Linked DNA regions of Homo sapiens. The protein of the gene in region 2 purifies or fractionates together with the protein of the main gene of each other region. This does not show direct contact. Each region holds a gene or a part of one and is shown on either strand. Other genes may lie near its edges.

Region 1 (3,911 bases), on a different chromosome or scaffold from region 2:
TGGGAAAGACAGAGGTAAAGGCAGCTCAGCAGGACTGCTCGTTTAAATGGGGAGCCCGAGCTCATGGATCAGCCGCCCCCCACTTTGTTTCTGCATTCCTCCCTGCCACCACCTTTCCCAGAGCTTTCGGACCCGAGGTCCCTGTACCTACTTTTCCCATCTGACAGTCAGGTTTTACCTTCCAGGTGACAAGGTCAGTCGATCACCAAGAGCTTCCTCATTTCCTGATCCTGGGATAGGTAGTTGGGATACAGGAAGTAGATACAAGTAGAACACAAAAGATGACCCTTTGACTGGAGAAGTTTATGATCTAGTTAATAAAGCAAGACCAGGCCAGGTGCGGTGGCTCACGCCTGTAATCCCAGCACTTTGGGAGGCTGAGGCGGGTGGATCACAAGGTCAGGAGTTCAAGACCAGCAGGCTGGCCAACATAGTGAAACCTCATCTCTACTAAAAATACAAAAAATTAGCCAGGTGTGGTGGCAGGCGCCTGTAGTCCCAGCTACTTGGGGAGAATGAGGCAGGAGAATCACTTGAACCTGGGAGGCAGAGATTGCAGTGAGCCGAGATCACACCACTGCACTCCGTCCTGGGCAACAAGAGTGAAACTCCATCTCCAAAAAAAAAAAAAAAAAAGACCAAAAATGCAAAATAAATAGATCAAATGAAGTGGCAGAAAAAGCTAATCATAAAACTTTCAGCATATAAGTATAATAAGGGTTTCTGAAAAGGAAGAGATTGTTGTGGACTAGAATAGCCAAATGGTTTTGTGGCTTCATGGAAGAATAAAACCAAGAAGGGAAGGTGTCAGCAAAGGACAGTAGTGCCTTCCTAGTTTCATTATATATCGAACCTGCTTAACACATGACATCTGGGAAGAGCTGCAGGGAATGATTTTCACGTATGATGATCTCATCTAATCCTTAACACTGTGAGACAGATTCGAATATCCCCATTTTACCCATGAGGAAATAGGCTCAGAGAGATGTTGTTCATGTAGCTGTTAAACGGCAGAGATTTAGGCCAGACGTGGTGGCTCACACCTGTAATCCCAGCACTTTGGAAGGCCGAGGCGGGCGGATCACTTGAGGCCAGGAATTCGAGAGCAGCCTGGCCAACATGGTGAAACCCTGTCTCTACTAAAAATACAAAAATAAGCCAGGTGTGGTGGTGCATGCCTGTAATCGCAGCTACTCGGGAGGCTGAAGCAGGAGAATCCCTTGAACTCAGGAGGCAGAGGTTGCAGTGAGCCAAGATCACGCAACTGCACTCCAGCCTGGGCAACAAAGAGAGACTCTGTCTCAAAAAAAAAAAAAAAAAAAAAAAAAAAGGCAGAGAACTGGGTCTTTCTGACTCCAAACTTCGTGCTCTTAATCTTCATCCTTCTATGTTATACTGAACAGAAAACAAAATTTTCTTTGGACATTTGAGGGTGAGCTGTTCTTTCTGTTGTGCATTAATGTGTTAGTTGCTGGATTCCTCCTAAACATCAGCTCCTCAAGGCAGAGATTTTAGTCTGTTTTGTTCATGTTGTGTTCCAGTGCCTGGTGCTTAGTAGGAGGTCAATAAATGAACAAATCAAAGGAAATAAATGGGGTGATGAGATAGAGAGTACCTTATCGGGGAGAGAAATGCAATGGCTGGTCACCCCAAGGAGGTGAAGGTAGGGAGAGCAGGAAGCATGAGGAGGAGCCAGCAGCAGCCCTCCCAGGGAGGAATTCTGAACAAGGCTCGGGGGAGTGAAAGAACCTGCCAGCTGATAAATGGCACAGCCTGAGTTCAACTCCAATGCCCATGGTTTAGTCTGAGCTGAACTGGTAGACTAAGGGAAGTGGAGTGGTCTTACTTAAGGAAGGGTAGAAGCCAAGTGGGAGATACAGGTAAGGAAGCTGTGACAAGAAAGGGAAACCTACAGGACAGTGGGTCTGGAGCATTCTTGGCCCATAGGGGCTGGAGTGGCTAAGACAGGGTCGTCTTTGGAGTCTCACGGGGCAAGGAATTTGTCAGCAAGGACCCTGAAATTGCTGAGGAAGAAACTGGGAGAAGAGGAAGAAGATTCTGCAGATTCTGAAATCGTCTAGTGAGTCTGAGCTAGGCCTGGGAGGAAGTGGACAGCAGCGCCAACGAGTTGATGAGAATGACATATGTGGCACGGACACCAAAAGGTCAGACTAGGCTGGGCATGGTGGCTTACACCTGTAATCCCAGCACTTTAGGAGGCTGAGGCAGGGGGATCACTTGATGCCAGGAGTTTGAGACCAGCATAGGCAACATAGCAAGACCCCATCTCTACAAAAAATAAATTAGCCGGATGTGGTAGTGCACACCTGTAGTCCCAGCTGCTTTGGAGGCAGAGGCAGGAGGACTGCTTGAGCCCAGGAGTTTAAGGCTGCAGTGAGCTATAGTCACGCCACTGCATTCCAGCCTGGATAACAGAGCAAAGCCCTATCTAAAAAATAAAAATAAAAGGTCACATTAGAGAGCAGTAGTGTTTCAGACATCCAGGAATGCTTCATAGAAATGTAGAAACAATTGACTTACCCACACAGACAAGAAAGAAGGCAGGAGGGCAAAAGGTGAAGAGATACACAGATAAATTTACACTGGTGTAAACACATGCTGCAAACACGCGCACACACACGCACACGCACATGCACATGCACATGCCAACCAAATCCTAGCATTCATGTGGAATGTTCCTGGCTGAAGACATAACAGCTGCATCTCTGGCCTCCCTTCACCTGCCCCTCCCTTCCCCAGTAGCTTTTTCCCATGGCCTCTCCTCAGTCCTTTTCACTCCACCAAAGCAAACCTAGGACTGCCCCAGCCACTGAGGCCTTGCCCTGGCCACGAACTCTAGCCCTTATCCTGGTTCGAGTCTGAGTGTGGGCCATGCCTCACATGGGAATCAGACTGGGTTTCCCTTGCCCAGCCCTCCAGGCCCCAGGGTGCTGTCTCTGCACCTGCACTCCCCTGTCCACATCAAACTGGGTTTCCCTTGCCCGGGCCTCCAGGTCCCAAGGTGCTGTCTTTGCACCTGCACTCCACTGTCCACATCAGACTGGGTTTCCCTCGCCCGGGCCTCCAGGCCCCAGGGCACTGTCTCTGCACGTGCACTGCCCTGTTCGCATCAGACTGGGTTTCCCTTTCCCGGCACTCCAGGCCCCAGGGCACTGTCTTTACACCTGCACTGCCCTGTCTGCATCTCTTCTGTCTTTCTGTGCCTCTTGCCCTTAGAGCTCCTTGTCTGTCTTTCAGTGCATATACCAGAATGTCTGTATGTCTATGTGAAATCTTTTTGTGGGAATGCCTGAATTTTTACGTATGTGACTTTCTGGTGTCATCCCTAAGGCCAAGAGTGTTAAGAGTTGGGGTGAGAGATGGTAGAGTTTTTTATGTTTGGCTCTCCACATTATATAGGTTCTAGGATATGTCCCTGAAACTACAACGTAGCTCATACATGGGCATTTTTATAAGACTAAGTGTTTTTATGGGTGGACCTCCTGATTCTCTGCCATGAGCTAGGCCTGAGATTTTACAGACCTAGGACTAACTGCAGTCACCTGGACACCAGAGATCTGTAACTGTCAACCGTAAAGAGAGAGAGTATATTTGCTTCTTTGGGGTTGAAACCATACTGACGTAATATAAACAGAATTTGGTCAGCACCATCAGGCAAACATAGTCTGCTCGATAAGGAAACTGTGAGAGTCAAATGGAACTTTTGAAGAATCTAGACCAAGCTGAACTTCCCTGCCATATTCACCCCTGCCTCACGCCTCTCCCTGTTCACCCCTGGCTGGCTGGCTGCATCCTGGGGAATGCTTCTGCTCCATCGGGGTACCCTTCCTCCTCTGCATCTCCTCAAGAGAAGTGTAACCAAGACACATAGAAGAAGCACAGACTAACAC
Region 2 (3,994 bases):
TCAAAATGTCTAACAGTAGCAGTCTCTGCCTTTCAGTCCTTGTCTGATAAGTACAGAAAAGAAAGGTGTCTTGAGACAACTGAAAAGAGGTGTTCATGCGTAACCAGGTGTTACAGCCAGCCATTCGGATGAATCAAGTCATCAATTTCTTATAGACTACTCTATGAAACAGGCCATGTACGTAGCTTGACATATTTGAGAATACACAATGGCAATTAGCATCTCAGCTTCTCACCCTATTATATTTTGGTAAAACGTGGACACATTTCAAATGATCTAAGTACTGATACTGTATGAAGTCAGGCAGTTATATATAATGTAAGAGCCATACACTCTTTGAGCAGGGGTGAGAGAACTGGAAAGTTTTCTGTTCCTAAAAATTTTCTAGAAATCCTTGTCCTAAACTAATGATACCTAACTGATGTGCTTTTACATCTTAACAATATTTGTTTGATGTCTTAGCTCTCCTCTCCATCTCAGTTAAACACACAAAGACACACTCATCCAAAATATCTAATTCTTTTTTTTTCTTTTTTGAGATGGAGTTTTCACTCTTGTTGCCCAGTCTGGAGTGCAATGGCGCAACCGTGGCTGACTGCAACCTCTGCCTCCTGGGTTCAAGCGATTCTCCTGCCTCAGCCTCCCAAGTAGCTGGGATGACAGGCATGTGCCACCACACTCGGCTAATTTTTTGTATTTAGTAGAGACGGGGTTTCACCTTGTTGGTCAGACTGGTCTCAAACTCCTGACCTCAGGTGATCTACCCACCTCAGCCTCTCAAAGCGCTGGGATTACTGGCATGAGCCACCATGCCCAGCCTCAAATATCTAAGTCTTAGGGTACAATTAACTCTAACAGCAAATTCCCCTTTCTGACTCTTTCAAAATCACTCATCTACTCGAATGAATATTTGTTCAACAATTAAACACCTAATGTATACAAGAAACTAGGACCCCGCAGAAAAGATAATAAATACATGGGTTCAGAGGATTGAGGCACCATCTTTATGTCTTTAAAGGAAGTGATATGGATAGGCTCTTTCAGGTTTGATCACATGCACGATGCTGCAAAGAACAAGTGGCTTTTACCATTTCCTCACTTCTCTTTGGACTCTGTAGGGATCTATCACCTTGGCTAAAGGCCATCCAAAGAAAACAGGTGAGAGCATGAGAGAGAATTTCACATTCAAACAGTAGGACACTGTTTGATCTTGCCCTAACAGACCTGGGTCTATGTCAGAATCATTTGGATCAGCAGCATCATCTTCAGTGAACGGGCGAAGACAGCTCTGCTTGTCCCCGAAGGCCCGCCTGTTTCGTCTTGCTGGCAAGGTACCATCTGAAGGCACAAGGAAAGAATCCCATACTTTATTTTATTTACAACAAAACAAACCTTCCCCATCTGCAACAAACCTACACTCTACAAATGAGAATGCAATAGAACAATTCAAAGGGAAAGGAACAATACTCGTGCACTGAGAAAGCCAGCAGAAGGCACTATCTTAAGTGTGCCATTCTCCCTCAAGGCAGTTACCTGAGGTCTCAGCATCCACCCCACTCTCTTCGGCCACCTTGAGGAATATCTGGAAAATGAGAGAGATGAGAACATTATAAGCACCAACATTACGAGAGTAGTCACCACTGCCACGATTATTATATTACTGAGTGGCATGTTAGCCCCGTAAGACAGAGAAAGTAGAAGCCACATTTCTTAATAACACTTTCTCAGAGTTACCTGGGAGAGAAGCCGTTTTTGCCAGAGAACATTTCCTCAGTGGTGAGAGCTATCAAGCTAGACAATCATTTTCAAATTAAAGTTATGGCTGAGCGCTGTGGCTCAGGCCTATAATCCCAGCACTTTGGGAGGCCGAGGCGGGCAGATCACCTGAGGTCTGGAGCTCGAGACCAGCCTGACCAACATGGATAAAACCCATCTCTACTAAAAATACAAAATTAGCTGGGCGTGGTAGCACATGCTTGTAATCTCAGCTACTTGGGAGGCTGAGGCAGGAGAATCGCTTGAACCTGGGAGGTGGAGGTTGCAGTGAGCCAAAATCGCACCACTGCACTCCAGCTTGGGCAATAAGAGCAAAACTCCAGTCTCATCAAAAATAAAAAAAAATTTAAAAAAAGCTATGACAGACACTGCGCAGAAGAAATTTATTCTGAACCTACAGGGAATGAGTCAAGTGGCTTCTTTCAGGACTGTGGCTCTAAATCTTTGAGTAGGCTAGTACTATGATAAGTTATCCAAGACAGAATGAGCAGGAGGAAATAGAGCACTAGAAATATGATGGCAGCAATTCAAACATCAGAAGAGAATCTGAATGAGCGCAATCATTTCCAAACTCTAGTCTATAGACCACTGTGTCCAAAGTATGCAATAGAAATACAGACTTCAAGGCCTCACCTCCAGAAATTCTGATTCACAGGCCCTGAAGCCAAACCTTAGTATGTTTATTTTTAATAATATCCCCAGGTGATTCTGCTGCACTGTCAAGCTTGGAGACCACTTGGCCAGACAGCTTTTATATCCCCTTCAGCCTTCAAGGTCTGTGATGTTGTATCTCTAAGGGGAGGCATTACATGGATAAAGAGAGGATGGACTTTGAAGCCCCAAACCCCTGATTCTGAATCTCATGTCAGCATTCCTGAGTGTTCATTTTTTCATCTTTTTTTGAGAATTAAATGAGGTCACAGTGATTAAAAAAAAATCAAAAAACAAAAAACAAATCTCAGCACCTGGCACAAGTAGACTATCCATCCATAAACGTTTGTCATTTCCTATGTATGAGAATCCAGTTGATACCTGGCTGTGACACAGTCACACCAGAGAATTGCTCCTGATTCTGATTCAGTAGGTCTGAGCTGGGCCCAAGTTGCTGAATTTCTAACAAGTTCCCAAGTGATCCTGATGCCGCTGTTCCTCACACTGTACTTAAGTAAAGAGGCTCATTAAAGGGTAAATAAGTGCATAGGAGTTTAAGGTTGGGATGTAAATGTGTTAGGTACCACTGGTTTCAACACACAAATCTCAGGCATGTACTGTGGTACAGAGGAAAACACTTCTTTCCTGCTATCTCCCACTACCATCTTAAATGGCTCACTGGGGCCAACATTAATCAGATGTCGATGACCTAAAAACTCAATGACTAACTCCATGATAATCCTGCTCCCAATGCAGGCTACTGGTCTGGCCTTAGGACATTTGGCCTTGCTATATATTCCGACAGTCAGCCACTTAACTTACTTCTTCCAGGGTCGTCTCTGAGATGCCATAACTAGAAATGCCCAGGTCTGAGAGCCGGTCATCAATCTCATGAAAGAGTTCCACAAAGGCTCCCTCCTTAGCAGCTTCATATGGCAGCACATAGGTCAGCTCATGCCCTATGTCTTCCACCAGCCGGGCTTCAGACACATGCTTCCTGATGAGGTTGGAGATAGCAGAGACATCTGCAGGGACCAGAATGCAAAGATGGCTCAATCAACTCAGAGGGGCTTCGGAGTGAGGGCTGGCCATCCCCCACCCTCTCATCAGAGGCCTGCCGCTCATACACCACACCTGTTCCAGGTGTTTAGGTCATTCCACATGTTCATCTCTGGTCTGAGGGTTGGGGGCAAAGGAAAGGACTATGTCTTATTCACCTTTGTATCACCAAAGCCAGGCACATTATAGGTACTCAGTGTAGAATGGGTGGACAGCTGGATGGGTGGATGGGTGAATGGGAGGATGGGAGGATGGAAGGATGGGTGGGTGGGTGGGTGGATGGGTGAATGGATAACTGAGGCTCAAAGTCTGGTGTCTATTGCCTAAGCTCTGGGATTCTTCAAAAGAAAACTTGAGTAAAGGAATCTTAAAAGATTCTTCACCCTTTCCTATGCTTATAAAGTAGGTTCCCTCATTTACCTAAATAAAGGGTTAATCTAACAGTCCATGGAAGCAGAAGCCTTCCTGGGAAAAGCCAGCCATTAGGACTAGGCAGAGATAGCAAGGG
Region 3 (3,994 bases), on a different chromosome or scaffold from region 2:
GTGAAACCCCGTCTCTACTAAAAATACAAAAATTAGCTGGGCGTCGTAGCGTGTGCCTGTAGTCCCAGCTACTCGGGAGGCTGAGGCAGGAGAATTGCTTGAACCTGGGAGGTAGAGGTTGCAGTGAGCCGAGATCGCGCCACTGCACTCCAGCCTGGCAACAAAGCGAGACTCCATCTCAAAAAAAAAAAAAGAAAAGAAAACTCTAAAATTACACACACACAAAAAAAAACTGTTAGAACTAATAAGTGAATTCAGCAAAGTAGCTGGATAGAAAGTCAACAAGCAAAATCCAGCGACGTTTCTTTTTTCTTTTTTTTTTTTTTTGAGACAGAGTCTCACTCTGTTGCCCAGGCTGGAGTACAGTGGCACGATCTTGGCTCACCACAACCTCCACCTTCCAGGTTCAAGCGATTCTCCTGCCTCAGCCTCCTAAGTAGCTGGGACTACAGGCACGCGCCACGATGCATGGCTAATTTTTGTATTTTTAGTAGAGACAGGGTTTCACTATGTTGGCCAGGCTGGCCTTGAACTCCTGATCTCGTGATCAGGAGTTGGGAGGCCCACCTTGCCTCCCAAAGTGCTGGGATAACAGGTGAGAGCCACTGCGTCCAGCCTCCAGTTACATTTTTATACACTAAGAATGAACAATCTAAAAAGGAAATTACAAAAACAACTCAATTTAAAATAGCACCAAAAAGAATAAAATATTAGTAATTAATTTAACCAAGGAGGTGAAAGACTTATAAAATGAAAACTATAAAACACTGCTGAGGCCAGGCGCAGTGGCTCACGCCTATAATCCCAGCACTTTGGGAGGCCAAGGTGGGTGGATCACCTGAGGTCAAGAGTTCGTGACCAGCCTGACCAACATGGTGAAACTTTGTCTCTAGTAAAAATACAAAAATTAGCTGGTCGTGGTGCCACATACCTGTAATCCCAGCTACTCAGGAGGCTGAGGCAGGAGAATCACTTGAACTCGGGAGGTGGAGGTTGCAATGAGCTAAGATTGTGCCACTGCACTCCAGCCTGGACAACAAGAGCGAAACTCCATCTCAAAACAAAAACAAACAAAAAAAAACTGCTGGCAGAAATTAAGGGGCATAAATAAATGGAAACACATCCCTTGTTCATGAACTGAAAGACTTAATATTGTTAAGATGCCAATACTACCCAAAGTGATCTATAGATTCAATGTAATCCCTATTAAAATCCCAATGACGTGTTTTACAAAAATAGAAAAATTCATCCTCAAATTCATATGGAATCCCAAGGGAGTCCAGATAGCCAAAACAATCTTGAAAAAGAACAAAGCTGGAGGACTCACACTTCCTGATTTCAAAACTTACTACAAAGCTGCAATAATCAAAACCATGTGGTACTGACATAAAGACAGACTTATAGACCAATGGAACATAACAGCACTTAGAAATAAGCCCTCTTACATATGAGCAAATGATTTTTAATAAGGTTGCCAAGACCATTCAATCAGAAAAAGACAAGCTTTTCACCAAATGGTGCTGGGAAACTAAATATCCATATGCAAAAGAATGAGGTTGGACCCTTATCTAACACAATATACAAATATTAACTCAAAATGGATCAAAAATGTATGTAAGACCTAAAGCTATAAAACTCTTAGAAGAAAACATAAGGCAAAAGCTTCACAACAATGGATTTGGCAATGATTTCTTGGATATAACACCAAAGATACAGGGAACAAAAACAAAAAGACAAACTGGACTTCATAAAAATTTAAAATGTTTGTGTATCAAAAGACAGCATCCCTGTGATCCCAGCTACCTGGAAGGCTGAGGTAGGAGGACTATTTGAGTCCAGGAGTTCACAACAAGTCTGGGCAATAAAGCAAGATACTATATTTAAAGGGGAGAAAAAAAAAATAGCCCAGGCACGGGCTCACGCCTGTAATCCCAGTACTTTGGGAGGCCAGGGTGGACGGATCACCTGAGATCAGGAGATCAAGACCAGCCTGACCAACATGGTGAAACCCCATCTCTACTAAAAATACAAAATTAGCCAGGCGTGGTGGCGCATGCCTGTAATCCCAGCTACTCTAGAGGCTGAGGCAGGAAAATGGCTTGAACCCAGGAGGCGGAGGTTGCAGTAAGCCAAGATCGTACCAATGCACTCCAGCCTAGGCAACGAGAGCAAAATTCCGTCTCAAAAAACAAACAAACAAACAAACAAACAAACCCAAGGGAAAAAAAAAGACTTTATCTTCCTTTTCTCCATCATAGTGCAAGATCAAGGTAAAAAAAAGAGAACTCTGGCCAGATGAGGGCTCACACTCATAATCCCAGCACTTTGGGAGGCCAAAATGGGTGGATCACTTGAGGCCAGTAGTTCAAGACCAGCCTGGCCAACAAGGCGAAACCCCATCTCTACTAAAAATACAAAAAATTAGCCAGGCATGGTGGTGCACACCTGTAATCCCAGATACTTGGGAGGCTGAAGCATAAGAATTGCTTGAACCTGACAGGCAGAGGTTACAGTGAGCCGAGACTGTGCCACTGCACTCCAGCCTGGGTGACAGAACGATTTTCTGTCTCAACATCTGTATGGAGGAGACTGGAGATGACTGACCCCAGCAGCCAAGGTGTTGGAGCAGCTCATAGGCCAGACCCCTGTGTTCTCCAAAGTCAAATACATTGTCAGATCCTTTGGCATCAGGAGAAGTGAAGATTGCCACCCACTGCACAAAGGGCCAAAGCAGAAGAAACCCTGAAGAAAGGTCTAAAGATGCAGGAGTGTGAATCAAGAAAGAACAACTTCTCAGATACTGGAAACTTTGGTTTGGAGATCCAGGAACACACAGATTTGGGTATCAAATGTGACCCATGCATTGGTATCTACAGCCTGGACTTCTGTATGGTGCTGGGTAGGCCTGGTTTCAGCACTGCAGACACATAGCACAGAACAGGCTGCACTGGGGCCAAACACAGAATCAACAAAGAGGCCATGCACTGGTTCCAAAAAGAAAAAGAAAGGAAAAGACCACACGGTATCAATGAGTAAAAAGGCAAACCACAGTAATGGGGAAAAAATTTTTGCCGTTTATGTATCTGAAAATATCCAAAATATATAGAAAATTCCTAAAACTCAACAACAAAAAAGCAAACCAATTTAAAAATGGGCAAAGGACTTAAACAGACATTTCTCCAAAGATACACAAAATGGCCAGTAAACACATGAAAAGATGCTCAACATCATTAATCATTAGGGAAATACAAATCAAAACTACAATGAGATAGCACCTCACACCCAATGGATGGCTACTTGAAAAAAAAAAAAGAAACAGAAAATAAACGTTGGTGAGGATGTGGAGAAATTGGAACCCTTATGCACTGTTGGTAGGAATGTAAAATGGTCCAGCCACTGTGGAAAATAGTTTGTCGGTTCCTCAAAAACTTTAAAATAGAATTATCATATGATCCAGCAATTACAATTCTGGGTAAATACCCAAAAGAATTGAAAACCCATATTCATAGCAACATTATTCATAATAGCTAAAAGTAAGAAGTAACTCAAGGCCGGGCTCCGTAGCTCACGCCTGTAATCCCGGCTCTTAGGGAGGCCAAGGCGGGCAGATCACAAGGTCAGGAGATGGAGACCATCCTGGCTAATATGGTGAAACCCCGTCTCTACTAAAAATACAAAAAATTAGCCGGGAGAGATGGCAGGCGCCTGTAGTCCCAGCTCCTTGGGAGGCTGAGGCAGGAGAATGGCGTGAACCCGGGAGATGGAGCTTGCAGTGTGAGCCAAGACCGCGCCACTGCACTCCAGCCTGGGCAACAGAGCGAGACTCGGTCTCAAAAACAACAACAACAAAAAAAGAAGTAACTCAAGTATCCATTGACATATGAAGGGACAAGCAAAATGTGGTATATACATATAATAAATACTATGCAGCCTTAAAAAGGAAGAAAACCCTGACATTTGCTACAACATGGTCCAACCTGGAGGACATTATGCC

Evidence for each region. Proteins that work in one complex are often made in the same cells at the same time.
Region 1: the proteins of ABCA1 (region 2) and DTNB purify together in Homo sapiens (pull-down; one study listed by IntAct). This does not show direct contact.
Region 3: the proteins of ABCA1 (region 2) and KIF11 purify together in Homo sapiens (co-immunoprecipitation; one study listed by IntAct). This does not show direct contact.

The regions. Positions count from the first base shown.
Region 1 is NC_000002.12:25,379,939-25,383,849, reverse strand, and holds part of DTNB (dystrobrevin beta), read left to right. Parts: coding exon 1-14; intron 15-3,911.
Region 2 is NC_000009.12:104,812,894-104,816,887, forward strand, and holds part of ABCA1 (phospholipid-transporting ATPase ABCA1), read right to left. Parts: intron 3,453-3,994; coding exon 3,250-3,452; intron 1,583-3,249; coding exon 1,534-1,582; intron 1,339-1,533; coding exon 1,225-1,338; intron 1-1,224. UniProt on the Homo sapiens protein: Catalyzes the translocation of specific phospholipids from the cytoplasmic to the extracellular/lumenal leaflet of membrane coupled to the hydrolysis of ATP.
Region 3 is NC_000010.11:92,595,858-92,599,851, reverse strand, and holds part of KIF11 (kinesin-like protein KIF11), read right to left. Parts: intron 2,994-3,994; exon of another isoform or gene 2,563-2,993; intron 1-2,562. UniProt on the Homo sapiens protein: Motor protein required for establishing a bipolar spindle and thus contributing to chromosome congression during mitosis. Required in non-mitotic cells for transport of secretory proteins from the Golgi complex to the cell surface.